Regions from separate parts of the Homo sapiens genome. Here regions 1, 2, 3, 5 and 6 are each reported to be linked to region 4. Evidence: microRNA targets listed by miRTarBase, many of them from high-throughput screens and not tested one by one. Region 4 holds a microRNA gene; each other region holds the end of a gene's coding sequence. Distances are from middle to middle.
What was found. Region 4 holds the annotated microRNA hsa-miR-5680 (GAGAAAUGCUGGACUAAUCUGC, at 1,293-1,314, opposite strand). A microRNA usually pairs through its seed, bases 2 to 8, with sites in the 3' UTR of a target mRNA and lowers its output. Matches are read on the target gene's strand: a 7mer-m8 pairs with bases 2 to 8, a 7mer-A1 pairs with bases 2 to 7 and ends in A, and an 8mer does both.

Region 1: the mRNA of SMARCAD1 is a reported target of hsa-miR-5680. Seed matches in the 3' UTR shown: 7mer-m8 at 4,236-4,242 and 7mer-A1 at 4,031-4,037.
Region 2: the mRNA of GTF2A1 is a reported target of hsa-miR-5680. Seed matches in the 3' UTR shown: 7mer-A1 at 3,823-3,829 and 7mer-m8 at 3,894-3,900.
Region 3: the mRNA of DCAF7 is a reported target of hsa-miR-5680. Seed matches in the 3' UTR shown: 7mer-m8 at 3,909-3,915 and 7mer-A1 at 1,978-1,984.
Region 5: miRTarBase lists SHISA9 as a target of hsa-miR-5680. Seed matches in the 3' UTR shown: 7mer-A1 at 250-256 and 7mer-m8 at 59-65.
Region 6: miRTarBase lists SMIM18 as a target of hsa-miR-5680. Seed matches in the 3' UTR shown: 8mer at 4,527-4,534.

Annotation. Positions count from the first base shown.
Region 1 is chr4:94,288,822-94,293,896 of GRCh38, reverse strand. It overlaps SMARCAD1 (SNF2 related chromatin remodeling ATPase with DExD box 1), which reads right to left. Exons shown (of 24, transcript NM_020159.5): 24 at 2,605-4,424. The coding sequence ends at 4,363. Among named protein-coding and RNA genes, the nearest start is that of HPGDS, 51 kb to the left of the region's middle.
Region 2 is chr14:81,176,101-81,181,175 of GRCh38, reverse strand. GTF2A1 (general transcription factor IIA subunit 1) reads left to right here. Exons shown (of 9, transcript NM_015859.4): 9 at 846-5,075. The coding sequence ends at 953. Among named protein-coding and RNA genes, the nearest start is that of TSHR-AS1, 8.2 kb to the right of the region's middle.
Region 3 is chr17:63,588,548-63,593,622 of GRCh38, reverse strand. It overlaps DCAF7 (DDB1 and CUL4 associated factor 7), which reads right to left. Exons shown (of 7, transcript NM_005828.5): 7 at 1-4,623. The coding sequence ends at 4,451. Among named protein-coding and RNA genes, the nearest start is that of TACO1, 9.8 kb to the left of the region's middle.
Region 4 is chr8:102,121,722-102,126,796 of GRCh38, reverse strand. MIR5680 (microRNA 5680) reads right to left here and starts at 1,365; the gene lies at 1,282-1,365. It also overlaps a transcript of NCALD not described here. RefSeq lists silencers at 2,461-2,520, 2,891-3,080.
Region 5 is chr16:13,234,560-13,239,634 of GRCh38, reverse strand. SHISA9 (shisa family member 9) reads right to left here. Exons shown (of 5, transcript NM_001145204.3): 5 at 1-4,605. The coding sequence ends at 4,226. Among named protein-coding and RNA genes, the nearest start is that of SHISA9, 340 kb to the right of the region's middle.
Region 6 is chr8:30,645,171-30,650,245 of GRCh38, reverse strand. It overlaps SMIM18 (small integral membrane protein 18), which reads right to left. Exons shown (of 3, transcript NM_001206847.2): 3 at 4,182-4,965. The coding sequence starts at 4,936. The coding sequence ends at 4,649. All of the region lies in intron 2 of GTF2E2 (general transcription factor IIE subunit 2), which reads left to right. Among named protein-coding and RNA genes, the nearest start is that of SMIM18, 9.1 kb to the right of the region's middle.

The sequences.
Region 1 (5,075 bases), not on the chromosome of region 4:
TACATCCCCACAATATCACCCCTTACCACAAGATCTCCCTTCAGCTTAATCTCTCCCACTCTAGGTTCCCACGCCACCCCTAATCCCGCTTGAAGCAGCCCTGAGAAACATCACCCATTCTCTCTCCATACCACCCCCCAAAAATTTTCACCACCCCAACACTTCAACACTATTTTGTTTTGTCTTATTAATATAAGAAGGCAGGAATGTCAGGCCTCTGAGCCCAGGCCAGGCCATCGCATCCCCTGTGACTTGCACGTATACATCCAGATGGCCTAAAGTAACTGAAGATCCACAAAAGAAGTAAAAACAGCCTTAACTGATGACACTCCACCATTGTGATTTGTTCCTGCCGCACCCTAACTGATCAATGTACTTTGTAATCTCCCCCACCCTTAAGAAGGGACTTTGTAATTCTCCCCACCCTTGAGAATGTACTTTGTGAGATCCACCCCTGCCCACCAGAGAACAACCCCCTTTGACCGTAATTTTCCATTACCTTCCCAAATCCTATAAAACGGCCCCACCCGTATCTCCCTTCACTGACTCTCTTTTCGGACTCAGCCCACCTGCACCCAGGTGGAATAAACAGCCATGTTGCACACACACACACACACACACACACACACACACACACACAAAGAACTCATAAAACTCAACAATAAGACAACAAACAAGCTGATCAAAAGATGGGCAAAAGACCTCAATAGACACCTCAACAAAGATACAGGTAGCAATAAGCATATGAAGAGGTGCCCAACAAAATGTCATTAGGGAACTGCAAATTAAAACAAGATACCACTATATGACTGTCACAATGGTAAAAAATCCAAAACAGCAGACAACACCAAACGCTGACGAGGATGTGGAGCACGGGTAACTCTCATTTGTTGCTGATGAGAGTACAAATGGTACAGCTACCTTGGAAGACAGTGACAATTTCTTATAAAACTAAACATATGCTTATCATACAATCTAGCAATTGTGCTCCTTGATATTTATTTCAAGGACCTGAAAACATGTCCACATAAAAACCTGTCCACATATATTTACAGAAGCTTTATTCACAATTAAGAAGTCAAAAAAGAGAGGAGGATGTTGGGGAGAAAGAAAGAAGAGGAAAAGAAAAGCCCAGATAGGTATGATCTTATTTAAGGTGTTTCTTTCCTCTCAATGTTTTATGAAATTGAAAAAAAAGTTACCTAATACTTTAGGCCGGGCGCAGTGGCTCACGCCTGTAATCCCAGCCTTTGGGAGGCCGAGGAGGGTGAATCACTTGAGGTCAGGAGTTCGAGACCAACTTGGCCAACATGGTGAAACCCCATCTCTACTAAAAATACAAAAATAAGCCGGGTGTGGTGGCGGGCACCTGTAATCCCAGCTACTCAGGAGGCCGAGACAAGAATCACTTGAACTGGGAGGCACAGGTTGCTGTGAGCCGAGATCACGCCACTGCACTCCAGCCTGCATGACAGAGGGACTCTGTCTCAAAACAACAACAACAACAATAACAAATATAAATTATTAAGGATTACACATAAAAACAGTGTATTTTCTAAGTACCTTGATTCTTTGGATCAAATTTTCTTGTTATTAGTTGCTATAAGTAAATGATAATAGGTTGTATGTGAATCTCATTCAAAACCCTCCAACATGTAATCCAGGCAATCTGAAGAAAAATTACCTTTAACAAAAGAAATGCAAATAATGTTCTAGATAATAAAAGTAGTTAGCTTTTCTTCACTCTTCTGCATAGCTAAATTTCCCCCACATCAAGCTTTAATGAAGACAGAACTAAGTAAAAGTGATAATCCAATGCTTATACAAAATTATGAAAATTCAAAATAAGATAATCCTATTTATACAAATCATAATACAAGTATAAAGTATAACCACAGCAAGTTTCATAAGGAAATATTTAGCATTATTATAACCTTTAGGTAATCTTTTTGCGCTGAAGGACAATACATTCCATTATCCCATTGTGTATGCAAATTAAATGTCTCTTTGCTTCTATACAAAGAGAGGGTGGCTAAGCGAGAGTGAAGTCAAGCAGAAAGTGAACTGCATATTGAATTTATAATTTCAAAAATACATTTTTGGTAAGAGTTAAAACAATCCGAATTCCTTAAATTTATGGACTGTGAAGTATCACACGTAAGGTCACACAAATGGAAACCAAATCTCCTCATACCCCGTCTCTCCACTACACGATAATGCCAACTGTTAGGAACTACAGTAATGTTTCAAAGTAAGTATCTACTGGCATAAAGTTAAAACTCTATGGGGGTCCCAAACAGTTATAAAAATGCATAAGGCATGTCTTCTTTGTGTAGCTTGCATTTAAAAAATGCTTCAGTTGGTCAAGATATTACTCCAACTCTCGCTTCATTTGCTCTGTAGTGATAATGGGTTACAGTATTTACTGACATCAGTCCAATGAAGGAACCAATGAGAATACATCCTAAGTAGTAAGTTCCAATTTACTGGCAAACAGGCAATATTAAGCACATAAGATAATCTCATTTGTGCCCAATATTATATGATTTTAAGGGTAGGAGGAGGAAGGGTTAGAAACTATTAAAAAGGGTGTGAAAATACAACTTATGATCACAAATATTTTTATTAAGCCCAAGACATAATAGCGCATTACAGGAAGAACCCAACTACATTTCATTAGAGATAAAAGTATGGATATAACAACAACAACAATAACAACAAAAAAAGAAACAGCCTATCATTGAAAATACATTAATACAGAAAACATGAGATATCCATTATGAGATTTTAAAAGGTAAAATTCCTAACAATTTGAATAACTGATTTGGGTATAGTGATGTACAAGGAGGTAGTATTAACACATGAAGACTCCTTTTAGCCCTGTAATGGTAAAATATATTCAGTCTGTTCAATATACCATCAAGACTGGGGTTAAGCCGTGAGTTCTCAGTCTTTAATATCTAAATAATCACTGTAAGAGTTTTATTTGCCTTCCAAATCCAGAGGGTCGTACTACCTAGCATCTTAGCAAGTTAGGATGCTTTGAAAAGCATGATTTCCAAAAATTAACAAATCTTTGATTTATAAATAAGTTTATTTATAATGATATTTACATAATAAAAACAAAACACATGGAACTCACAAGTTATACAAAGAAACTGATGTATAATAAAAACAGCAATATAGACTGACAGGCAGAAATTTAAAGAAAGATTTAATAAAGAGTTAAATATCAAATAGACAACTTCACTTCTAAATTTCACTTTGTCACTCACACTGAATTGGAATTGAACAATGGCTCTCTCTTCAGGCGGTCCTGTACTGGAAATTCTGGAAACTGGTAAAATATATTTTGATAAGAGTTTCAAGTTAATGACCTATTTCCATGCAGTACCTAATGCTGCCTTTAGATGAAGTCACATTCAGTCTGCTTTGAAATGAAATAGCTTTAAGTAATCTGTTCTGCCAGGCTAGAAAAATGTCACCAACATTTTGCTGATGCATGGAGATGTGGCAGTAATAAACTACTATTTAGAGAGGAAGAGAATTGGAGCAGAAGTGACTGGGCAACAGTTTCAAGAGAAGCAAAAGCCGGGAGAGGGAAATCAATGAAAACATGCACAAGATTAGGCAGAGTAATATGCACAATTAGTGCAGTTGGAAAATGAACAGAAGGAATTAATCCATGGAGCAAGGTAGGGGCTTCTTTAGTTACTATTCACTGGAAAACAACTTAGTGCCTAGCCAAATAAATTTGTTTCAGCAGAAGTACTTGAGAGGACCTGGGGGATGTTAGTATATGGAATGCCACCTTTAAATTCAGGTTGAGTTCTTGCTGACATTGGTGAACATCTGCTTCAAATAGCAATAAAATGAAAGCTATATAATCTATACAGCTGCATTCTTTAACATAATAAAAAAGAACTTCAAATGAGACAAGCAAAAACAAGACATAAGCATTGTCAAATAAGGCACATGTAAAAATCTACACACATTATCCAGTGAAAGACAATATATATATATTTGGAGGTAGAAATAATTACAAAAATACTGACATTTCTAAAGCATTAGCATATTTGTTACAAACAATCACCAACTAATCCCCATTCAGAAAACTGCTTTGTAAAATGATTATTCAACATCTTCAGAACTACATATTTGTGGCTTCTTTTTTGAAATTTCACGTGTGAGTATTTGGAGAATTCAGTTAGTGGCAAAAAGTTGTCCATACTATGAGAAATGTAATATGGAAATTATAAAAAGTTATAAATGTTCATAAACCCCATGGTCATCATAATGTAAATGTCCTTGAGTGCACCAAGTTGATATTTCCTCATCAATTGAGAGTTCACAGTTCTTATTTCACAGGCCCATTGATGTTTTTAGTAATGTGGCTATATCTGCTGGCATACTCCCTTCATCACCTGTAGGTCAGAAAGTAGCATTAAAAGCTTTATAAAAATATTTTACTTAAAAAAAAATTGTCTCAATTATTTTTTTTCTTTGGTGAATTCTTACTCATCTTTCAAGGGCTAGTTTGCTTCAGTGTCACTCACCCCTGTTAAAAACTTTCCTAAGCTCTACTTAGATTAGGGCTATTTCCTCTATGTTCTTGTTCATATTGCCAACATAGCAATCTAAGGTTATTTTTCCAATTTTATAAAGCTATATAAAAATACACGGTAATACACTGGATCGTATCTAATTCATGGTACTTAACTTCTCACATTTGCTAAATAAAAAACATTTATGTAAGAAATGGAGTAGGGAAAACAAGGATAACAAACCCAAACCTAAACCAACGAAAACCAATCTATATTCTTATTTTTCATCTAAAGATATAATCACTGACTCAGACCCACACTGTATACATATAAACAACATTCTGAGCACAGCATACCAGCTGATGATTAAATTAGCCACTTTAAATTACCTGGTTTATCCAATGTTTGCCCTATATTTTAATTAAATGAGGCCCCAGTATAAGCACTTACAGGAATTATTTGAGATTTTCTAAATCTCTTTGTGTCACAGTGGCAGATAATCTAGCCATCCCTGATTAATTCAATTTAGCA
Region 2 (5,075 bases), not on the chromosome of region 4:
AACAACTACGGACTATAAGTGAAGGCAAAGATGGGAGTGCCCAGAGCCTGCCCTTCAGCTCTTTTTGTTTAACTGTGGATGTACATAGTTTTTGAAATCTGGTGTAAGTGACTGGATGATTAGCATCCTTTAGATGTATTTTTAAAATACTGCTATGTATAAGGTTCCATGGTAGTTAGGTCTTGAGAACTCTATAAGGAGTTTTATTTTGGTAGAAGAAATGAGTCCATAATTGTATTACTTACAAATAATGTAAGAAATGTCAATGAAAATACCATTGGGAATTTAACAGTGGAAAAGAATAGTTTTAGCTGGTAAGATTTGGGAAAGCTTTGTGGAGGATAGTCTTTTTGAGGTAGACCTTGAAAATATATATGCAAACCTGGTAGAGAGATAAGACATTTTGTAAAGAAATATTTTTTAACTACTTTAATGAACACAAGTACTAAAAGCTATAAAATAGTACTAATTACAGATAAATTTGTTTTTAGACCCACCTAGTGAGTTTTGTGTGTGGTTTTTTTGTTGTTGTTGTTCTTTTTGGTGAAATTAAACTTTATTAAGAAACCAATTTTTAGGCCAGGTGCTGTGACTCACGCTTGTAATCCCAACACTTTGGGAGGCTGAGATAGAAGGATCACGTGAGGCCAGGAGCTCGAGCCCAGCCTGCACAACATAGGAGACCCTTCTTCTACAAAAACAAACCAATTTGCAAATACAATACTGTAAATACTGTTTTGTGGGGGGGTGTGTGTGTACGTGTGTGTGTGTATGGGTTTTTTGTTACTTGTTTTCTCTGTTTTCTGATTGTATCTCTCAATTTTTAAAATGTTGTTTTTGTTTAGATACACAGAAGTAAAAACAAATGGAAATTTCATCTCAAGGATGGCATTATGAATCTTAATGGAAGAGATTATATATTTTCCAAAGCCATTGGAGATGCAGAATGGTGAAGAGTTGCTTTTTTTCTTTTATAAATAAAAGAAACTTAAAAAAAATGTAAAGCGGACAGTTTGAAACTTGGGGCATATGCCAACCAAAACTTCGTTTCTGCATGTCAGAAAAGTGCAGTAGAAGCAAAGCTACTGGAACAAAGATAGACCTTGACAACATAGACACTACTTACTGGCAAGCCATGGAACTGTAGCACCTAGGGTTTTTGGGTGGGAGGGTTGGGGTTTTGTGTAGGAAAACCATAATTGTTGATTTTAAATACAGGTACCTGCCACCGGTAATTAGCATGTAAAGCTTTGTCTATATTCCTTCCTCCAACTTGGGTTCAATCAGAAGATACTTGTTGGAATGAACTGAAGAAACTTCCCTTTTGATAGATTGAACTGAAACTGCTTATTGTATGTGGTTATATTTGGTAAAAGTTGCGTGTGAGCTTTTTACAAAAGGGTAAGAATTGTGTTGAATTTTAATTCACTTGTATAAGAAAACAATTTAAAACTCTCATAATAGGTCTTAAATATTTTTACTTGCTATTCTCCCTCAGTGATATATACCTCTTCCTTTCCAGCTTTATGAAACATCTATTTAAGATTTAAAGTTATCAGTGATCATAGTTTGGAGATAAAATTTGACCCAGGAATGAATATTTATTTTAATTAGGTTTTCATACTTATTAAATGTAATTAAAGACTTGGGTCTTGTCTGAGTTCAGTGGAATTGAAACCACAACTTTAATTTCCTTACAGAAAAACTTAATTTGTTTCTTTTAGTGCCACACCTTAAAAAGAAACCCCAAACTAGCTCCTCAGGAATATAGTTTTATTTTGCAAGCATACCATCTAGCTGAAATTGTATACACATGAATATATGTAGACTTTTCCTGTTGGGCTGAAGTGTGTGCTTATAAATGTGTTTAGTTTTTAAGCTAAACATTCAGTTAACAGTCTGTGCATTGATTAGCATAGGGCAGGTGGTGAGGACCTGGATTTTTATTAAACAGTTTAGTAATTATAAAAGTTTCTTGTGTTTACTAGTAAAGAATTTTAAAAATCTATTCTAATTCAACAAGTTTTTAAAATCAACTTTGTAATTTGAGGGGAAAATTTGGGGGGAAGAGGTGGGTGGGCCACTAAGTTACCTCTCTTTCATTTGGTGGCCCTTCCAGGCCATTGAAAATAAAGACGTTGGCTCCAGTTTGCACATTGGGAAGAAAGCATAGAAATTTGACTTGTATATTAAAAATAATAGAAATGTAATATGTATATTAAGAATGCATAGGTCTGTATTCTGTAAGGGGCTCTGAAGAACAATATGGCACTGCTGTGTTCAGTGTGAATTCACTGCCTGGGAGAACTGCAGGAATGCTTGTCTTCACCATTGTGTTCTTACAACGAATTCAACTTTCCATGGTTTATCTTGACAAAATTTACATGTGTTTAGGTTACTTGTATATTGATATATTTTTTTAATCTTCAGTTTTTGTCTTCCTTTTGCCTTTGTGTTTTCAGAAGTAACACATGAACACTTTTTAAAGTACATTACAGAGAAGAAAACTGTGAGCTATTATATAGTGTTTCTTTTTTAACACAAATCTTTTAACTTTAAAAAAAGGCAAAAATTTTTTTTTTCTACTTCCCACCCAGCTTACCACCTTGATCTCTTTAACTTATGTTCTAAACTTTGGTGTTAATGGTGGTGTCTAGCATGCTAGTAGTTAGATTTTATTTAGATGCCATAACTGGTAATACAGCTTTTATTTTGACTATATTAATTTAGTTTTTTGAGGGGAAGTTTGTTTATTCTGTGACTCTCAAAGCACACAGAGGTTTTAAAATATATATTATTAAGACTGAGAGAAGAGGAAATGGGAGGGAGTAACATCACAGAAGTGCTGTTGTTCAACTGTTCTTCAATATAGTTGCTAGTAGGTTTGTATTTACTCAGTAAGGAAGTCAGTGACCTGAACTACCTATAAAAATTCAGCAGTGCTGCAGTGTTGCTTAAGTGAAACCCTTTGGCTATCTAGTAGTTTTTATGCTACTGAAACTTGGATTACTGTATGATATTCAGCTTGTCTTGGGCCCTCTATGTAGACAAACATTCATATTCATAGTAGTGTTGTATACTGGCCTGTTTTTATAACTTTATTTTTCAAATATTAACAACCACTGCTTTCAGAGTGGTTATTTTGTTATTTTTGAAGCAGGAAATAACCATTTGTATTTGCACCTGCGTATTGCATATGAATTATGGTATACTTGGCAAATGCTTTTCTTTTACCTGTGAAAATTCTGAAAGCTGGTCCAAGCTACATTGCATACCAAATTGTGCTCTTATATATTATTTGCATCGTGTCCTTTTTAATCAAATAGCATGTTTTAGTTTTATTATAGTAGCTTTTGCTGTAAGAATGTCACTTGCTTATCTTTTATTGTACTTGAATTCTTAATCATGCTTTTAACATTGTATTTAACAAATCATTTCGTATTAGGTTCCATTAAAATGTCATTCCTTTGAAAAGGCAAGGGATTTCCACTTTCAGAATTTGAAAATGAAAGTAGCATGTTTATCTAAAGGCAGAAAATAGTTCGGACTTGGTATTATGAAAATAAGTAATGGTTTCTGGAGAGGATTTGTTTAGATTTGCACAGATGGCGATGGCACCTTTTACTTAAATTAACATTAATCAACAGTGCTAAGGAAAATTTACACAAAATTACAAGATAAAACATGGAAATGTGTGCCTTTCAGTATACAAACTCTTGCTTGGTGGCCATTTGGGTAATCAGACCATTTGAATGCCTGAGAGCATGTTTAATTTCTGTGGAGTGCCACATATGGCTAAAACAACTCTTTAATGTGCAATTAATTTCTAGAGTAAAATGTCTGTTATGTGAGGGGGATCTTTATGTTGGGCTTTTCTATTTTTTAAATGTTCACATTTCTTTCTGTTAATTAAAATGCCATCATAATGTCACATTTACACTGTTGCCTCTTTTAAAAGCAAAGCCACTTTCTTGTTCTAAGATTACATCAAGACTTGAGCAGTGTGTAGTAATTAAAATGTGTGCTTAATGAGCATAATAGATTCTGGTTTTAGGAAATAACATATAGCTTTTATATGAATATTTTCTTTTGCTATAATGAAAGTCACAGATTTTTTTTTTCCTGGCTTTTATGGAGGAATGAAAAGAGTTGTCTCCCTCTAAGAGTATACTATTTTTGATTCTCATAGCAATAATGTCACCATTCTTATCAGAGGGTAAATACCCCTTGTATAGGAAAACAGACATAATTTCCTCTTGGGAGTTCTCTTTATGACTTAGCATTTTCTTCTACTTGAGAAAATTCCTGTTTTTCCGATTATTTCATCTTGAACTTTCTTTTTTTTAAGCTTTTGTGCAATGTAATAGTTTGTTGATCCATCTTTGTACATTTTCATTTTATTTCATGTCTTTCTCTCACCTACCTGTCAGAATCAGCTATAGCAGATTTTGAATTCTTTAGTTAAAAAATAGTTGCTTTACTTGTTTCCTCATGAGTTTGTTAAATAGCTTTGCATTTTAGTCCTCTATTATGCTATGAAAATTATTACGAAGTTTATATTGTTCCCTTTTTAAGCCTGCCTTACTCTTGTCTTTTGTCATTGTCTATGGTTTAATGAAGAACACACCAAACTAACATTTTTGTTTATTTTGAGGAACAAAAAAACTTTTCTCTTTTAAGGGAAGTTACTACACATTGAGTTAGTAACTACTCTTTCAGTCAAGGTTCCTTAATCAGTCCAGTCTACATCAGGACTATGACTTGGGGGGCGGGGCTAATCCTTTTTGCTGTTCTGAGCTACTATTGTCAACTGCTGTTGTACATACTGTTATGTGTAATGGCGTAAATATATTTATTATGTTTGTAAAATTCATTGCAGATCAAGGTTGCTCTTCTGTGATATATGGGATATTATGTTTTAAAGACCATCTTGGAATACAATTAGAGAACTTAGTATTTTGATGTACTAAGACCTATTTTAAGTTTAATATTCTACTTTGCAAAAACTTTAATTAAAGATGTTATTTAAAAAAAAATGTTGCTTGCTTTGCTTACTAGTATATGGCATTGTTATA
Region 3 (5,075 bases), not on the chromosome of region 4:
ACATTTCTTTTAAATAGTAGATATCACATGTTCATAATCACTGGGTTGTCCCAAAGGTGGGTGCCTATAAACTTTCCAGCTGTTACATAGACTGTCAACATCTTTCTTCTTGAGTTTAAACTTTCTTTAGCTTATTTGTTTCTCGTTGGATATACCAGTCCAAGCCTCTTTGGGAAGGCACCTGCATGTTTCCATATTTTAAAAATGACATCCAGAAAGTAGCCTGAGAGGACCTGGCCCATCCCATGTGGCCACACATTTGACTTTGACCATTAGCAGCAGTGACACTGTGAGAGGGGGAGAAGGTGCAGGTGGGTGAAGTGGGCAAGGGTCTGCAACACGAGACGCTCTCAGGAGCTGGCCCAGCCAGGGCCTGGCCCAGGGTTCACAGTGACTTTGCTCTGCTCCGCCCTCTTCCCTGGGAAAACCAATCTAAGTATCAAGCATGATCTTCCTTCTTCGTCCTGGAGTACACACAGTAAAGGGAAAAGTCTGCTTTGAGGCTTCTACTTCAATGGTCTCCCCTACCCCAAGCCAGGAATGAAAGGGGCTGCCATATTCTCAAAGTGGGGAAGGCAGAGGGACAGTACTGGGCTGCCCTCCCACGTGTGGTAAACCCTGCAGCTGCTACATGTCTTCACAGCCCAGGAATTCAAGGCCCAGGTGGCAGCAGGAAGAAACAGTGGAAAAGCAAGGGGAAGAGAAAAGAGAAAAAGGAGGGGGAAAGTCTGCATAACTGTCATAACCTCTGCTTCTCCTGCTCTGTAACAAACCCACAACCAGGAAGAGTCATGGTCTGGAACAATCATGGGACCCCAAACGCCTGTAGGTTTTTTACCACCAAACATCACCCATGGCTGCTCTAAGCTGTCATTTTGTTCCCACAGTTACCTAGCATCACGGATGCCCAATTTATGGCCCAGGAAGGCTGACCCAGGCTAAGGGCAGTCTCACTCCACAGCCATGCAATGGACAGTCTGAATGTTTCCCTACCCCAGACCTTCACTGACCTCTACTATTTCCTCCTCTGATATAAAGAAAACACTTTAATTTTCTCCTGCATCCTACATCTCCTCCTAAAATTTTGGCCCTAATTGTCATCAAAACCTTGTAGGATTCTGAATTTTTTGTTTCTTCCTGAATCTTAGCCAGTTCTCTCAGAGCCAATCCTGGATTTATAAGGAATTTTCACCTATTTTTTTTTTTTTTTTATTTTTTGAGACGGAGTCTTGCTCTGTCGCCCAGGCTGGAGTGCAGTGGCACGATCTTGGCTCACTGCAAGCTCCACCTCCCAGGTTCACGCCATTCTCCTGCCTCAGCCTCCCAAGTAGCTAGGACTACAGGTACCCGCCACCACCCCCGGCTAATTTTTTTTTGTATTTTTAGTAGAGATGGGGTTTCACCATGTTAGCCAGGATGGTCTCGATCTTCTGACCTTGGGATCTGGCCACCTCAGCCTCCCAAAATGCTGGGATTACAGGTGTGAGCCACCACACCCATCCTCGCCCAGTTATTAAATACCTTCCCTCTTCAAGTCCTAACCTTGCAGGCTAATTCCTCCCTGGAAGAAGAGGATTCCAATGCTCCTGAGCATAAAAAATTCAGGTCCTTGAATGACGTGGACCCATTCTCCAGCTCTCTGGTGGTAGAGGCCTGAGGCCTAATTTATTCAGCACCTCCATCCTTCAGTCAGAACAGATGAGGACAATACAGGCAGCTGTGCCTCAGGCTGCCAGGAGCAAAAGGGCCATCACCAGCTGGGCCACAGCCTGGCGGAGCCTCCATGTGGGCTTCCTGCTAAAGTCCTAGTGGCTGCTCCTCCCGCAGTCAGGGAGAACAGATCCAGGGCCTCCCACCCAGTCTCGCTGGCTGTCAGTTTGAGAACCTCAACAAATTACAGAGTTGTTTTTGCAACTACAACAGATCGGTGCTTTCTGGAGCATGGATGGCTTACAGACTTTCTAAATCCTGAGACTGTAGAAATCCCCTCCTCAGTCATGGGTCGTCGGGCTGGTGGAGTAAAGGGAGGGTAAGAGAGCTGGGACTCAAAGACCAGCAACTCATCAACTGTGAGTATGTGTGTGCTTGCTTAGGGGGGTGGAGTCCCCCTGGGTCCCCGGTGGCATTCAGGGGAAGACTGTACTGCAGGACCTAAGGAAGGATGACAGGAGCTGGGCGTCCACAGGGCAAGGGAAATCTCAAAAGTTGTTGGTTTCCAGAGTAAATAGCTATCTTATGCAAATATGTTCTAATTATTATTTTTTTTTCAAGTTGTTGTTTCTGAGTTCCAGCTGACAAATTCCACCATACAGACCAGGCGTAGGTGCAGATCAGGAAAGGAATCTTAGAACTCAGTGGATGTAAGCCCTGCCCAGCAGACCAGCCCCTTCTACCACTGACTTCCATTTCAGACCCTTCTCCACAGGAAGGAACTGATGGCCTCCTAAACAAGCAGCCATCAGCTTGGCCTTGCTACCCTTGAGAGAAGGACCCAGTAACCATTATCAAACACAATGAAAAGCAGAGGAGGGTTCTGACCAAGAACTGCTCGCTTTGTATCTCCAAACGATGCAGTGCAAATCCAGTGGCAAATGCAGGAGAGGCAACCACAAGCACATGGCCAGCCAGAGTCCTAAAATCAGAACAACAAAGTAAAAGGGTAGAAGGGGAAATATGCTGGCTAAAAAAAGAGCCTTTTTCTTTGGGACAGGTCCCTGTATGGTAAAGCAAAGAGCTAGACTTTTGGCATATAATGACATCTACTTCTGAAAAGGAAGACTTAACCAAAAAAGCTTAAGGGCCCAGAAGAACAAAGTTACTGTTTTACTTCTCAAGCAGGTGAGAACCAAAGAGGACAAAACCATCATCCTTCAGGCCTGCTACTCTACTAATCTCAGATGAGCAATTCAGAGGGACTTAAAAACCTTCGGGTAGGAGCAGAGCGCAAGGAAACAGCCAACTTTCCCCCAAGAGCACATCCCAAACTGCCTGCCCCAAGGGCTCATCTAACGGTGGAATCACACATATGCCCCTCCATGGAACTCATTCACATAACAGAAAGACACCTGCGGCCTGCAAGTCAAAAGACAACTGCAGGCTACAAGTCCAATACTGCTCAGAACCTAAACTGGGGGAGAGAGGGGTTGACAGGTGTGGGTAGAGCTCTTAACTGGCTGACCCTGGGGGTCTATAATTCCTTTTCCTTCTTTTTTTTTCCTCCCTTTTCATTACCCACAGTATAATGCTTTTTAACTATCTATCCACTTGACAGCCCAGGATTGCCGCAGTCCATCAGTCCATCTCTCATGTAAGGTCTTGTTCAGGGTTGGAAGCACAGACAGGATGCCTCGGGAAGACTCTCTCACCTCAGAACACTCAATCCAAAGAATGCCCAATATACCACCAGGCACAGTAAACTCAAACAACAGAAGCACCGAAGTTCAACTCAGATATCATTCTTGCCTATCATTGAAAAGACACTAAGTGGAATGGCCTGGGGCTTATATTTGGATGGAAAAACAGACTCTGAAAGAATGTACTGGAAATATGCTTGAAGTTCAGCTTCATGAAACGATTCCCCTCAAGTCAGGTACCCTGAGAGCCTGTTTCTCTCAGCTCTACCATGCTGCCAGTGGGAACCAATGGGCTGGACAGTGGTGCTTCAGGGTAAACAGAGGCTTCCTATGTCTGTTTACAAGCCCAGAATGCCCTTGAGAGGAGCCAGGCTAAGAAAGGTGTGATGAGTCAGTGGACTTCAGAGCACCAAGGTGGTTTGGACTCCCGGTCAGGTATGTACTACACAGGCAGTGACTCAAGAAGGCAAACTGCTCATGGGGCCAGGGGCCCAGTACCAGCTCCAGGCACTGAGGGAAGAGAAGAAGGTGCAAAGAGGGAGGACTATAAGACAAAGAAATGAAGCAGGAGAGTAAAATTCTTTTCATAAAAAAATTAGCCTGATAGATAACAAATATACAAAGTTAAAATTTGTTAAACACACTGATACTAGGAGAAAAGACAAATTGGTATTTGTTCCCACGTAAGTGCTAACACGAACATGGACATGGACGAGACATGAACTGCTGCCTTGGGCAGCAAACAGAGACACCTGGGCAGAGGAATAGACACAGCCAGTGCGTGAACTGCTCCTCAACACAACGCCTGACAAACAAATATACACACATTTTTTAATTGAGGAACCAAAGGAGAAGAGGAAAGGAGAGAAAATCTTAAAACTCAGCCCTGGGCTGAGGAGGCGCCACACAGCACTGAGTCTGCCACAGAGGGCGATGGGGTGACTGGCCAGGAACTCCTAGAGCAGCTTCTGGTAACAGTGGGTGCAAAGCAATGAAAGACATACTGGCCACTGGAAACATGTTTCTTCTTACTTTGGGGGTGGGGCAGAGGCAGGAAATACAAAAGCCCCTGCCTCGTGGGCACAGCGCCACCAACACTACACTCTGAGTATCTCCAGGCAGTTGTTGTAGCAGATGGCGATCCAGTCGGGCTGAGTTGATGCCCACTGCACATTGTTGATCTCTCCTTCAGCTGTGTAGGCCAGGATAGGGTCCTCAATGGCTCGGGGCATTTGCTGGATGTCCCAGATGAGAGCCTGGTGGTCATCCGCTAGGGACAAAGAAAGCCAGCAAGCAAGGTCACAAGTGAGGCAATGCGGATGATGATCCCTGCATTTCAGGAGCAAGTCACAGTTTACAAAGCACCCCCGTGATGGCGGTTCTATTTTAAGCCCCCATTTTATCGATGAGGAAATCGAGATTCAGAAATGTTAAGGCACTTGTTCCAAATCACACAGCTATTCAGCCAAGTGAGTGGCAGAGCCAGAACTCAAATCTAGGCCCTGACTCCATCTCCCAGATGTCCCCAGGCTCTATCCACTGCACTAATGAGTCCTTCTCATCTGGGTCAGGTATCAGGAGTGGACAAGGGGATACCAAACATGTCATTTGCAGCCACTTAAAATACTTGAGTGGTTACAAAGATCATTCTCTGATCATTCAATATAATGAGAGCGTTTCTTCCCTGTTTGATGGACATTTATGCTTCAGTGAGGTGTTATA
Region 4 (5,075 bases):
AAACTCGAACAGAAATGTTCATAGTAGCATTATCCACAATAGTAAAAAAGTGAAACAACCTAAATGTCTGTCAACTGATAAATGGATAATCAAAATGTGATAGAGCTATACAATGACATCGTTTGTTCATAAAGAGGAACAAAGTACTGATGCATGCTACAACATGAGACAGCCTTGATAACATTAAGCTGAGTGAAAGAAGCCAGTCACAAAGTCCTCAAATTGTATGATTCCATTTATATAAAATGTCCAGAATTGGCAAATCTACATAGAGAGAAAATAGATAAGTGGTCACTGGAAGTTGGGGGTTGGGGAAAGAAGGGAATGAGTGCTAATAGGTGTGGGATTTCTTTATGGGGTGATGAAAATCAGTTCTAAAATTGGCTATGGTAATAGTTTGTACAACTAACTGCATATGCAAAAAATATTAAATTGCATATTTTGAGTGAATAGTATGATGTGTGAATTATACCTCAGCAAAACTGTTTTTTTTTTAACAGTAGAGATCATTAAAGAAAAATCACATCAATAAAGAAAAGTAGATAAAGTGGACTTTAAAATCACCTCTCTCTCTGAGGAATCCCACCCCAAGCACCTTCCTAACTGCTTCCTATGCACAGAATCTGTCCAGACTACAGGTGACGAACCGATGACCAGGGGACCACTTGTGGCCTACAAATTCTTATTTTCTTGGCTTATAGAGAAATATTTAAAAAATATTTAAAATTTTTTAAAATATTTAAAAAATAAGTTACTAATATTTTTAAATTAGAAGAGTTCACATTAAACGTGAACTTCTGGCTTCTCTTGGGGGCAGGGGGAACCAAACCAAAATAAAATAAAATACCCCGACTTGATGGCCACACTGGACCCTCTTTTCCCACGTAGAAAAATGAGGCTGCCTTTTTCAGGGCCATTGTGCCCTTCTCAGTTTGTCCCTGTATAACCACTTAAGTTACTTCTTTGTCACCTGCTTTTATCCTTCAGGGACATTTGAGTTTGCAACACCTGTGCAGACCTTTTGCTGTATCAACGGGACGTTCCCTTAGGCCCTGCTTGATGATTGGCTAATCCTATGGTGGTTTCCAACCCTGGCCACACATCAGAGTCTCCTGGGGCCCATGTGAAAAAAATACCCATACAAAGCTGGACACCCCTGAACCCCGGATTTTTTTTTTTTTTAACAATTAGATTAGATTCTCTCGGGGTCGGGCCTAGTATTAAGAAAAAAGAAAAAACCAAAAACCAAAAAATCCAACTTTCCAATGCAAATTTTTGCTTGCATTGGATTAGCAGATTAGTCCAGCATTTCTCCTCCTGTGTGTCCAGGAAGGGAAATGCTGGGCTAACCTGCTAACCCAATGCAAGCAAAGGTTTTAGTATTTGATGATGGTTTAACAGCCTCCTAGATAATTTTTGTTTTACAATTGAAGGCAACCGGTAGAGCTAGGAAAGGGTGCTTTTGATTAGATGAAACTTTTACTTGGTGTTTAAATCAGAGTTGGCAGCTGTCTGGACCTCAATGTAACTGTCCTTTCTATAACCAGTCATGTTAAAAGATTTTGCAAACATTACAACGAGGAAGGCCAGGTCACGGTGCCTTTGCAGCCTTGTTATTTTTAAGCAGCAACTTTTTAAATTGATGAATTTGAGTTGCTCTTGAGACCTTCTGCGGGTTCTGGAAATGTCACCAGGGTTGACAAGCACAAGGAGTTAGTTACAGTGGCTTTTTGAGAGGCCATGAGTGGACGACACAGCAAGACAGGAAACAGGTGCTGGCAGCCAGCAGGTACTCGATAAATATTGGGTGAATGAATTGACAAGACATTTTGCTTCTCATTATCTCCACACGAGATGAAAAATTTGAGGGGAGGAAGGAGGGGCAGGAGAGGGGCCCCTTAGATGTCTTCCTCCGGATTTTTTGTTAAGCTTTTCCTAGACAGTTTACAGAAGGCTTTGGGTAGAGAAAGCACTAGTTAGACAAAAGCAGCCCCCCTCCCACCTTGTGGGCATGAAGAGTCCAGAGGACACCACCTGAGAAGCTTTTCAACTGCCTTCCAAGGCTCCCTTGAACTTCACTGCGGTAGAGCAGGGACCCCAGACCCCCCCTCAAATCGAAGCTTGGAAGGAGGTGCTCTAGGCTGAATCTGACCTCCCAGGACCCGAGGAGGCAAGCAGATGGCACCCCTTGGAAAGTAGCAGTGCAGGCTGGCTAGAGGCCTGGGCGGTGAGCTAGGACTATGGGGCACCGTGGGGACACGCCCGGAGGCTGCACCAGGGCAAGCGGGGGAGGGGGGGGGCGTCCACTGCACCTGCAAATCCCGCGCCTCATCTTGGCCCCCCTGCAACCCCGCGGTGAAGCCCACGCCGGAGAGGCTGCCTGCGGGGCTGCAGTGGAGAGGGGGTCTGCGGCCGCGAGGAGGGAGGCGGCGAGCCAGGCTGGGGAGGGGGGCGCGGCTGGCGACGGTGCTGTCCAGGGGGAGGCGGGCGGAGGGAAGGCGCTGCCGCTGCTGCCGCCGCCTCGCCCGAAGCGACACAGACGCTGGGAGCGGCCGAGGCGGTGAGTCGCAGCGCCTTCCCTCCGCTTCTCGGGAGCCAGAGCGGAGTCGGAGTTGCAGCCGGGGCGGGTGTGCCGGGGGCGGCTGCTGGGGGGGACCCGTGCGCTCGGTGCGCCGCGGGCGCAGGGGTGGGTTCGAGGAGCGCGCGGTTCTGGGAACCTGGTTCCAGCAGCTCCCTCCTGGGTGCAGTTCACCCTGTCAATTCCTCTGTCATTCCCCCAGTGCCTCTGAGGGAAAACAAAACAAAATTACAGACCTTGAGGGTGGGCGGCAGAAAAGGAGAGAGCAACTTTGCAGAGGGCCGCGCAGAGGCGCGTGGGGCCGGCGGGATGGGGCGCGCTGGGCAGAAGGGGGCGTTGGTGAGCCTGGCGGCCCGGGGACCTCTGGAGCATCCCGCCCCGGGGGCCGGGGCCGGGGCCGGGGGCCGGGGCACCCGCTGGATCCCGGGCCTGCGGAGTCTGCCCGGAAAGGCCACAGGAGGCGAGTGCGGGGCGTGGGCGTCTGGGGAGGGGGCCAAGGGAGAGGCCGAAAGGCGCTGGTTGAACACGGACGAGGAAGTGGTCTGCATTTTGGACTCAGGACCTGAAAGATTCGTGTCCCTTGCGCTCGAGGACTTGGGAAGGGTGTGCTGGGGAGATGTGTTTGAGTGTTTTTCAGTGCATACCGATTTATTTTTAGCTCCCAGAGAAGCAGGATGTGCAAAGTGGGTTGTATCAGCCCGGGAGGGGCAGGAGGTCTCCCTGTCCGCAGGAAATACACAAGTTTTTTTTTTTTTTTTCTAATGCTGCAGATGCTTGCTTTAACTTTTGTGCATGGAGAAAGAATGCCATTTGGCTCTGCAGAGCTCCTGCCAGGGTCAGTTTCTTCCTGCGGGTCTGTCGGAGGCCGCAGGCGAGGCGGCTGGTGTGCTGCTGTGCTTACACGCTAGCCCCGCAAGAAGGTCTATGTTCTGTTCCGTAGGGCAGCTACGGTGAAACACAGAAGTAGGCAGCCAAGGTCTCACTCTCTCAGAAGGAAACCACACAAGCTCGCTCAAAGTTTTCCTACTTCTGGCTGATTTGAAAATAACAGACCTAAGCCACTGTATTACCAAGAGCAGAGTTTGCTGTCAGGGGTTTCTCAGACCTAAGTGGAAATGCTTGTGAGGTTTTTCACTCCAATTGGGAGATCCCCGTGTTTTATGGCCAAAGGCCTTGATGCAGACTACAAAGGAGAGGGGGTGTGGTGTGATGGTGGGAGTGTGGGTACTTGCGGTAGCGGGGCAAGGACAGATCTGGGGAGGAGGCTCAAGAAACTGAAATTCACATGTTTACCTACCCAAGCCAGATCTCTGGAAATTGTCCTGGAGTCTCCCCTGTCTCAACCATTCAGTGTCCAGTCCTGTAGACCCTCTGTCTGTAACTGTATTAGGAGAGTTGCCAATATGGACATTAGGAGTGTGGGCTCTGCAGCCAGACAGCCGGGTTTGAGCTGTGGCTCATTCGTCAATAGCTCCTGGATCTTGGGGTCCTTACTTAACCTCTACTGTGTTTTCTGATGTGAGGCATGAGGTTGATAATAGATAACAAAGCTATCTCAGGGTTACTGTGAAGATAAAATGAGTTAATACCCAGAAAGCACTAAGCATCATGCCTTGTTGTAAGTGCTGCATAAATGTGAGCTCTTATTATTTTTGTTGTTGTTGCTATACGCCCTCTTCTCTCAGTTCCTGCTGTCACTGACTTAGTTCATATTCTCAGCACTTCTTGCCTGAATTGTTCCAATTGCTTTTGAGCTTGTTGTTCCCAATCAGGACCGTCTTACTCCAGTCCATTCTCCAAACTGTGGACACTCATTCCAAAAACAAAAATCTAAGCCAGTCATTCTGCTTAATTTCCTTTAGAGGTTTTCTGTGGTTTTCAGGATAGAATTCACACTCCAGGGACTTTCACGGTCCCACCCTTCTCTCTTCATTAACCTCATCTCCCAAGCCTCCCCCCACGTAGCCTCTGCTCAAGCCACTGAGTCGCAGCATCTATCATCTCCCCAACCTTCCTTGTCTGGTCAACTCCTATGCATTCTTGGCAGCTCAGCTGCTGCGACACTGCCTTCCAGCAGGCTGCATGGCACTCCCCCTCCCAGAGGTGCCATGCTACCCTGGATGTAGCCCTCGCATCATTCTGCACCATTATCTATGTATCTTTCTATGTACATTATCTATGTATCTATGTATCAAGGCACCTGCATGTGCCTTGAGAGATGGATTCTGATTGTAGGTACATGTTTGTTGAATGAATAAACAAACATCAGTCAAACAAAATCCAGTCCTTTTCACTAAAGCCAGAATCAAACACAGAGAATAATAGACAGAGAGGAGGACCAAACCAAGCTTTATATCTAACACTCTACGATAAAAAACCTTGGGAAATACTAAGGAATCAAGAGTTGGTCAAAAGAAATGTGGCATACTGTCTTGAAACTGATGGGATCCTTGCCCTCGAGGTGTGTCCTTTTAATGGTGAGGGGCAGACTAACAAT
Region 5 (5,075 bases), not on the chromosome of region 4:
AAGACATTTATGCAGTCAAAAGACACATGAAAAAATGCTCATCATCACTGGCCATCAGAGAAATGCAAATCAAAACCACAATGAGATACCATCTCACGCCAGTTAGAATGGCAATCATTAAAAAGTCAGGAAACAACAGGTGCTGGAGAGGATGTGGAGAAATAGGAACACTTTTACACTGCTGGTGGGACTGTAAACTAGTTCAACCATTGTGGAAGTCAGTGTGGCGATTCCTCAGGGATCTAGAACTAGAAATACCATTTGACCCAGCCATCCCATTACTGGGTATATACCCAAAGGACTATAAATCATGCTGCTATAAAGACACATGCACACGTATGTTTATTGCGGCACTATTCACAATAGCAAAGACTTGGAACCAACCCAAAAGTCCAACAAGGATAGACTGGATTAAGAAAATGTGGCACATATACACCATGGAATACTATGCAGCCATAAAAAATGATGAGTTCATGTCCTTTGTAGGGACATGGATGAAATTGGAAATCATCATTCTCAGTAAACTATCGCAAGGACAAAAAAACCAAACACTGCATGTTCTCACTCATAGATGGGAATTGAACAATGAGAACACATGGACACAAGAAGGGGAACATCACACTCTGGGGACTGTTGTGGGGTGGGGGGAGGGGGGAGGGATAGCATTAGGAGATATAGCTAATGCTAAATGACGAGTTAATGGGTGCAGCACACCAGCATGACACGTGTATACATATGTAACTAACCTGCACATTGTGCACATGTACCCTAAAACTTAAAGTATAATAATAATAATAATAATAATAATAATAATAATAAATACTCCATGGATACATTAAAAAAAAAAGAATAAAAAGACCTTCCCTATCCAAACTTCCCTCTTCAGTTCATCTCCCAAAACCAACTGGAAGATAATAAACTATGAAGCACTTCCTGAGCTTTCCATCCTAGACAGGACTACTTGGAAAGTACGTGTCCTTCTTGGGCCATCATTGTGGCTACATCTTAATGACCAGTCTGCACCTTTGCTGCCAAAATTACAACTGCAGACCCCAAGGAGCCCAGTTCAATTGATGAAGTTTATTCAGAGGAGAAGGAGCATGCAGAAGGAATACAATACTACAGATTTAGAGGCCAAGAAAGACTCTTAATCAGAGTTGAGATAAGGGTGGGACGAAGTGGACTGGGGGCAAAGAGCAACCACGAGGTAAAAGGGAGATAAGAATTATGGAAACTTTGAGCTGGAAAGAGCCTCACAGATAAGTCAACCCAGGGTTTTCTGAAGTGTGGGCTATGCACCCCTAGTGTATGCACAATGATCATAGGCAGTACATAGCTACAGCATTGTTCAACACTGACTTGCATAGGAAATGATTCCCCTTTCATTTACTTTTTGGTCCATCTTATTAGTACAAAGAGAAAGTCTTCATTGGGTGCTGGTATTTTTAACAATTATTTAATACCTGATGATATCATTTTAAGAGAGAGAGAGAAACAGAAACAGAGAGATGGAGAGAGAAAGAAAGAACCCCAGGCTTTAGTTCAGACTCACAGACAACAGACTCCAGCTGGAATTTAATCATCGCTGCTTGTTTCCTTTGTACTTATTTTTATGTTTGCTTTCTATTTATGGCAACTGATGATTTTTTTTAAATTTGTGATGAAGACAGGAAGTTTTCATTTTAAAAACAAAATGCATTAAAATGAATCAATTTAGATACAAATATTGTGAAGGTGATATACAGAGATGCCAAAGTGTGTTGCAGGTACATAGCTCATTAACGTCAAGGAAACTCTGACCATGCCCAGTGGTATTTACTTGACTCTGGGAAGCTCTGGGGTCTTCCCAAGGAGGCTGAGAAGGTGGGCACTAAATCTCTGACCCCAGCTTTGTACAGCATGGTACCTTTTTATACATGGAGATCTCCTATTATGCGTTCTTTGAAAGATCTCTTTTTTTTTCTTTTTTTTTTTTTTTTTGAGATAGTCTCACTCCGTCACCCAGGCTAGAGGGCAGTGGTGTGGTCTCAGCTCACTGCAACCTCCCAAGTTTAAGCGATTCTCCTGCCTCAGCCTCTCGAGTAGTTGGGATTACAGGCACCCACCACCATGCCCAGCTAATGTTTGTATTTTTAGTAGAGACGGGGTTTCACCATGTTGACCAGGCTGATCTCAAACTCCTGACCTCAGATGATCCACCTGCTTCAGCCTCCCAAAGTGCTGGGATTTTAGGTGTGAGCCACTGTGCCTGGTCAAAAGATCTCATTTTTAAAAACAGGTAGAGGTTTTGCAGTTTCAAAAAGCTTGACCTACCCCAATTCCCCATGTTTCAGATGGGAGACTCAGGCCCAGAGGGATCAACTGCATTGTTGGTGTCCTCGTATCTGCTGGGAGTGAGGAGAATAAATATCTGGTTTTGCTGATTTCGTGATGTCAGAGTGGAGAGACAGGTGAGGCAGAACCTTGCAGCTCAGGATTTCAGAAAATACTCTGAGTCTTGTTTGGCCAGACCATTTATAGCTTCTGACACCAGAGTTGCTGTGGGTCTGTTGAATGTTAATTAACTACCAAAGACCTTTAGGGGCTAGTTGAAAAACCTTCCACCTTAGATAAAAATCTCTTCTCTCTCAATCCACTTCTTTGGGCTTCCACAAAACAAACACAACTTGTAGGAAAACTGACTTTGCTGGGACCCCAAGGACTATGGATTATGAGAACCAACCAGAAAAACAACCTCAGGACATTCTGGATGGGAGATGAACACATGAAGTATGTGGGGAGGTAATTTGGAGGGACCATGGGAATTACGGGACCAAGAAACATCTGACAGGTTTGAGAGGGCTAGAAAATGGAAGGACTAATTTTGATAGTGTAGAGAGTAGGGAGGTCTTCGTTCTTGGGTACCCCTGACATTGTAGCAGCCCCTCAGAGGGTGTTATGGGGTGGGCTCACCTACAAAGGAAGGATGGAAACATCTTCTACTACTGCAGAAAAAGAAGAGGAAGGAAGGCTAAAAGAACACAGGTTGCACTTGGGAAACAAGACTGTCATTAAACAACAGTAACACATTGAAGGCACCACCCACGCTTATGACATTTTCAGTCCAAAGCAGTTGAAGTTTGGCAGCGGCGGCGGCAACGCGCTGAAGGGAAAGGGATGTCAGGGACATACAGTTTATAGAGGACTTGTTTCTGTGGCTGTTTCAGGTCTTGGAGGCAAAACCCAGAAATCAGAGGCTTCTGGATCCTCATCTGATCTCCTGTGGACTTTTCCAACTGTGGATTTGTTGTTGTTAATGTCAACAAGTCTTCAAGATTTTTGAAAAAAAAAAAACACCTAATTTGCCGTTTTTATCTGTTTTGTAGTGGGCTTACATTTTAATCCTCTTTTTAAAAAGTTATTTGATACTCTCCGGACCCTCTCCGTAAAAGCCCATCCCTCCCATTTCCACGGTCATGGTCCTTATGGGAGTTCTCTAAAATGTTTTTTGTTTTTTGTTTTTTCCTTCCCATCATTGTCGGTGGGTTCAGGGTCTATTTACTTTCTGTGAGTTTGAGGGTGTGTTGTTTTTTGCTTTCAACATGGATGATATGAAAAGTACTATAAATAGAATGGTTGGGGTCCAGTTACTGTTTCATGCTCGTCAAAATTTTACGTCCACGTCACCACTTCTTGGAATTAGAAAAATGCTTCTAATGTGGGCAAATTCCTCCCAGAACAACTCCTCTTCCAGAATACACTCTTCTCTTGTGTCCTCCCTCATTCTCTACCCCCATTTCCACCCTGGCTTTCGAACCTAGAAACAGACAGCACGTGGCAAGTAGTGTATGTGCTCAAATGGACAATTTCTCTAAATTGTGCTACTTTTATATTTTGTCACCATGGATTTCAGTTTCAAGTTAGGAGGAAAAGAAAACTCAGCCCCACGGTTTGGGCATGTGAGTTGGCCATCTTGGGCCTGAAGTGGAAAGAGTGTGCCTCATTTTCCCCTTTGCTGTATTGCTGAATGTCCACGCTTCGGTCTTTCTCAGCTGCCCGCCGACACGTTACAGGCATGACCTAGGAAAAGCGCGACTCTGTGTCCCCAGTAGGTTTAGAGTTGGTTCTTGTTGAGAGTGAGTGTGTGGACGCATGTATTAGGGGAGGATGGGGAGGGTGTGGGCGGGGTTGTTTTTTGCCTCTCTCAGTTGAGTGTGGTCTCCAGGGTGCTCCCTGTGGTGAAAGCTCAGACAGTCACTTCTGTTTTGCTGTTGGTGATGAAGTATGGCTGTGGGGGTGGGTAGTGCTGGGGGCGAGTTCCCAAGGGGTCGCTGGAGCCTGTCTCGGCCGTGCCAAGCTTGCCCTTGTTGCTGTAAGCCTGCCGCCGGAGGGACTGCTCGTTGGGGTCCCAGCCCTTAAAGTTGGTGGTAGAGGTGTAGGCCAGGGGATGTGGGGGCATCTTGTTGGTGCGGGACTTCTGTCCATTCTGCTTGGCAGGACCGTGCTCAGGGCTGAAGGCCCGGGGCTCGTCCTCCACTCTTACGGGGTGCAGAGGTAAGTTCCCCTTGGCAGCCAGCTCAGCCAGGTGCCGTCGCTTGGTGTAGAAGTCGTCATTGACCTTGTCAGCTACACATCGGAACGGGTGGATGAAGAAGGGGAAGAAAGAGAAGAGAGAGAGAGAGAGAGAGAGAGAGAGAGTTAGAGACTGGCATGTCAACCCAAGAACAGCATAAAAATGGGCCAACAGTCCAAACAAGACACACTAGAAACTCCACCTAGAACAAGACAGAGGGAAGGGCAGCACCATGCCCTTTTCACAAACAAAGAGCAGGACCAAGAGGATTAAAGGCATCCCCAAGGGAACCTCTAGACCTCCGAAATAAACACTTCTCCCCCCACAGTCCCACCTACCATTCTGCCATCGTTGGTTTGCCTATGAAATTCGCGTGTTGTTTCTTTTTTATTAAAATGATACATTTTCATTAGAGAAAAGAGTGAACATGTTAAGTGATCTTCCTATCTATGACCTACCAATCAAGACAGCCGATAACAACTTTTGGGTGTATTTTCTTCTGGTATTTTTAATAAACAGAGTT
Region 6 (5,075 bases), 71 Mb from region 4:
TACTTGGTTATGGTGTATAATCATTTTTATTTGTTGTGGTACTCAATTTGCTGGTATTTCGGTCAGGATTTTTGCATCTCTATTCCTGAGGGACTTGATGTGTATGTAGTTTCGTTTTTCTCTGGTGCCTCTCAGGGTAATTCTGGCCTCCTTAAACGATTTGTGAAGTGCTCCCTTTTCACCTATTTTCTGAAAGAGTTTGTGAAACTTTGTTATTTTTTAAAATGTTTGATAGAATTCACTGGTGAAGCCATTTGGGCTTCAGCTTTCCTTTGTGGAAAGCTCTTTGTAAGAATTTTTTCTTTTCAGTTTACTCAGATTTTCTATTTCTTTTTGAGTTACTTTTGGTACTTTGTGGCTTTTTAGAAGTTTATTCATTCATCATTTACATTGTCTGAGGTTTTTCAAAGTACTCCCTTATAATCCTTTTGATATCTATAAAGTCAGTAGTGATATCCCCTCTCATTTTTTTTGAGACGGAGTCTTGCTCTGTCTCTCAGGCCCCCCAGAGTAGCCGGGATTACAGGTGTGTGCCACCACGCTCAGCTAATTTTTGTATTTTTAGTAGAGACAGGGTTTTGCCATGTTGGTCAGGCTAGTCTTGAGCTCCTGACCTCAGGTGATCTGCCTGCCTCAGCTTCCCAAAGTGCTGGGATTACAGGCCTGAGCCACCTCACCCAGTGTCCTCTTTCATTTCTGATTTTAGGAATTTGTCTTTTCTCCCTTTTTTCTTGATGAGTCTAGCTAAAGGTTCATCAATTTTGTTGATTTTTTTCAAAGAACCAACCTTTGGTTTCATTGGCTTTTCTGTTTTGGTTTTTGTTTGTTTGTTTGTTTGTTTTTATTTCCACATCAGTATTTATTATTTCCTTCCTTCTGCTTGCTTTGGGTTTAGTTTACTCTTACATTATTATCTTTTAAACAATGTCAGTGGAACTTAATTCACAGCTGAAATTATTTAGCTACTTCAAATTGTAGCAATAATAATTTTTATTGATGTTAATTTTTTACACATCCTACAAGCTGTTTTATAACTGATTTGGAAGCAAAGCTTTTTTAAAAATCAAAGTAGGCCTGTCATTCTTATAATATATATTAGGTTTATATGTCGTTCCAATGAAATGTACATAGAATTAACTCATCATAAACAAAAATGTAAAAACTGTTTTAAACATTAACATAGCCACTCTCAGGCTTAAGCCACTTGAGCCTTTGACCTGCTCAAGAATGTCTTTGCATTTTGTAGTTTAGGCTACAGGTATTGGGTAGCGAATTTCATCTTCCCCACAAACAGGTCCCATTCGACAGCAGGAAGAGCCCTTGTAGGGTTTTACTTCTCTTTGGTTGGCCAGGGTTTTCCCTAACAGTCAGGGTAGGATAAACTGTGTTGTGGTAACAATCCCAAAAATCTCAGTTTCTTAAAACAACAGAAGCTTGTTTCTCCTTCATACTACATGTTTATCATGGATTGGTAGAAGTCTTAGCTAGTTATAGTCACTCAAGGACCCAGGCTGGCAGAGCAGCTGGAAGCTCAAATGTTTGTGAGTTCTGTGCTAGCAGGAAAACTAACTCTGGAAGAGCTTGCACTAGCAGTTAAGTGCTGTGGCCTGAAGGTGACACATGTCACATCCTCTCACAGCTCATTGGCCAGAGTTAGTCACAAGTCACTCATTGGCCAAAGTTATGTTCCCAGCCATAGGGGGCTCTGAAGTGAATGCTTTCCTTAATGAAGAGAGCTGGAAATATTGGGTGTAACAACTAAAGGCTACCATGCCACTCTAGTTCAGGCCACGGTCATTGGATTGCTAGGTTAGCTGTTGACCAGGTCTCCTGGTTTAGCTGCTTTAGTGTTCATTCTTCATACAGCTGTGATTTTTCTCATTAGATCATGTTGCTTTCAGCTCAAGCTGATTGTTACTGTTTTTCAGATAAAGTCCATGTTTTACTGCAGCCTGCGTGCCTGCCTCATCTGGCCTCTAATTATCTCTTAGGTGTGGTATCATACTGTTCTCCTTGTACTCTGTCCTAGTGATACTGACTTGTAGCTCCTCCAACATGCTTTATTCTCTCTTGCCTCTTGGCTTTTATTCGTATTATTTCTTCTTCCTGGAATATTCTTTCTTACCTCCTACCCTCTTTTGGTTCTGTCCTGTTCTTTTAAGTTTCAGCTTAAAAGTCATATTATTCTCATTCTTCAGTGTGAATTCACTGTATAACCTTTGAGTTCCCATATCACTACTCTTTTTGACAGAGCTTCCAATGTGCTCCATTGTAGTGACGTGGTTCCTTGTTTGCCACTCTGCCCTCAGTATCTGGCCTAATTGCTGACATGTAGTAAGCACTCAGTAAATATTTGTTGGATGACTAAATAATTACAGGATAGGGTGGGGGAGAAAGTTGGTAATGTACACTATTAAAAAATCTGATTATTAAAGGACTTGTATACTTACCATCTATTGCCAAGAATCCAACGTTTGTGAAAATGTATATGGTTTTAACAGTGCTCAGTTCCTGGTTTCCAAAGTATTTTATATATCCAAGCTTCACAAATCCTTTTAAAGTTGGTTATATTATTTGTGTTTGTTTCTAATGTGAGAATAAATATAAAAAATACTTTGTGGAAGAGTTATTTCAGACCGGCAGTTAAGATTCTTTTGTTTGTTTGAGACGGAGTTTCACTCTTGTTGTTCAGGCTGGAGTGCGATGGCATGATCTCAGCTCACTGCAACCTCTGCCTCCCAGGTTCAAGTGATTCTGCCTCAGCCTCCCAAGTAGCTGGGATTACAGGGGCCCCATTCCCATGTCTGGCTAATTTTTTTGTATTTTTAGTAGAGATGGGGTTTCACCATGTCAACCAGGCTGGTCTCGAACTCCTGACCTCAGGTGATCCACCTGCCTCGGCCTTGCAAACTGCTAGGATTGCAGGCGTGAGCCACCGCGCCCAGCCGATATTCTTTAAATTGAAAAGAACAGATTTCCTCTCTTCACCACACAGTTATTTATTGCACACAAAAAATTCCATCAGTAATAGAGATTTAAAAAAAGTCTTTTATAATACCTAGTGCTTTTTTTTGTCCCCACAGCCCTCTTAATATACCAGCTATTCTAATTCTCCATATTTGTTTTCAAACCTTACTCATGTGTATATTTATAATATCAATAATTGTATTAAAACTTTTATATGGTGAATTTATTTTTTACTTTTAAATACTTGTCTATCTTGCCAGACTTTTCGGTTGCTTTTTTTTTTTTTTTTTTTTTTTTTTGAGACGGAGTCTTGCTCTGTCACCCAGGCTAGAGTGCATTGGCATCATCTCGGCTCACTGCAACCTCTGCCTCCTGGGTTCAAGCAGTTCTCCTGCCTCAGCCTCCCGAGTAGCTGGGATTATAGGTGCCCACCACCATGCCCGGCTAACTTTTGTATTTTTAGTATAGACGGGGTTTCACCATCTTGGCCAGGCTCGTCTTGAGCTCCTGACCTTGTGATCCATCCGCCTTGGCCTCCCAAAGTGCTGGGATGACAGGCATGAGCCACTGTGCCTGGCCTTCAGTTGCTTTTTAATAATTCATTAAGTTGATGTGCCACATTTAGTTAAAGTCTTAGTTATTTTCAATTTTTTGTTATTTTGAGTAATGCCATTGTAAAAAATCTTTGTACCTTGAGCTTGTACATTTGAACTAAGTGCTTAGGATACATTTCCAGGAGTGGCATTTCTGACTTAGGGGTAGTGTGGTGGTTAAGAGCATGCTTTTGTTTGCTCATGGGTGATAGCAAAATAGTGTTAGGGTCACAAAATATCTATATAGCCCTTGGAATTCCAAGAAATAAAACTGCCATATTTCAACAGGTGTTGAGTGGCCCTATCTTTTGACCTTTTTTGGGGGGATGGGGGGAGGGGCAGTCTTTCTGCCTTGGTTATCTTAGCCTTTGAGAGTATAAATAAGAGAGGTAAAATGAAAGAACAAACTCAGGAAATGAAGGGGTGTAGTAGTAAGTTTTAGTTTGAAAATAGACTAGGCCTTTCCTATATCATGCATTTCTAACTAAACAGTAAGTCAGTTTTGTGAGAATTTTGTGCAAATATACTTGTGGCATTTTTGATTATTTTGAGACTTTTTCATACTAATCCTACATAAAACTCAAGTCATTATATATTTATATAAGTTGTTTTCAGTAAATTAGAAAATACTACTTTTTAATAAATAGGAACTTTATATATATAAGTGGAAGTATTTTACTTCAGACTTAGAAACATGTTTTAAATAGCCTTTTTGTTACCAACACACTATTTTTTGTCTACATGAATTGGTTAGTTATAAAATCATTTTAGCATCATTAGCCTTGCTTGTCTTTTCCAGCTTATCTTTTGCTGCTTAATATTGAACTCTAGGAATCTTTTATCCAGTTTTTGAAGTGTCAGTATTAAACAGATTAGTAAATTCACATTCATGAAGTTTTACTGTATATTTAATGAAATGGCTATACACACAAACAGTGCATGTTTAACTTTTTTTTCCCCTTCTACTAGAAATGTTTTAACCATTCAGTCAGAATTTGTTTTGTAGCAACAGTTGGCCTCAGAATATATTTTTTTTCTCAGAAGAGGTTGAGCTGCTTTCAGAGATTTTGTTCATCTTCTATAGAGTGTTAGACCACTTCAGTTTCACGTTTTCTGATGTTGTCCATCATACTTCTAAGAGGGTTGGGTTCACTTTTCAAGTCTTTCACGGTTTTGTTTTTTACACAGCAGCAGCAGTCAAGCACTTCATAAAGGAAAGCCAGCACCACTAAAGATACCACTGTAAATATAAATAAAAGCAGGATGACAAAGCAGGCAGTGTTCCAGTTGTCATGGAAAGGGTAAATTTTTTGAACTTGAAAACCAAGGTACTGATAAACAGAGGTAGTGGTTTCATTCCAGTGGCTGGAAGCCATTCTTAGAGATTCCACTTGCTCTTTTGAATCTATAAAAAAGGTAGAAAATGAATTTATGTAGCAAACTACAGATCTGTTAATTCAAATCTCAGTACTAAGATTTCTTAGTAAATTTGTATAGGCAACATGAATCTTCCTT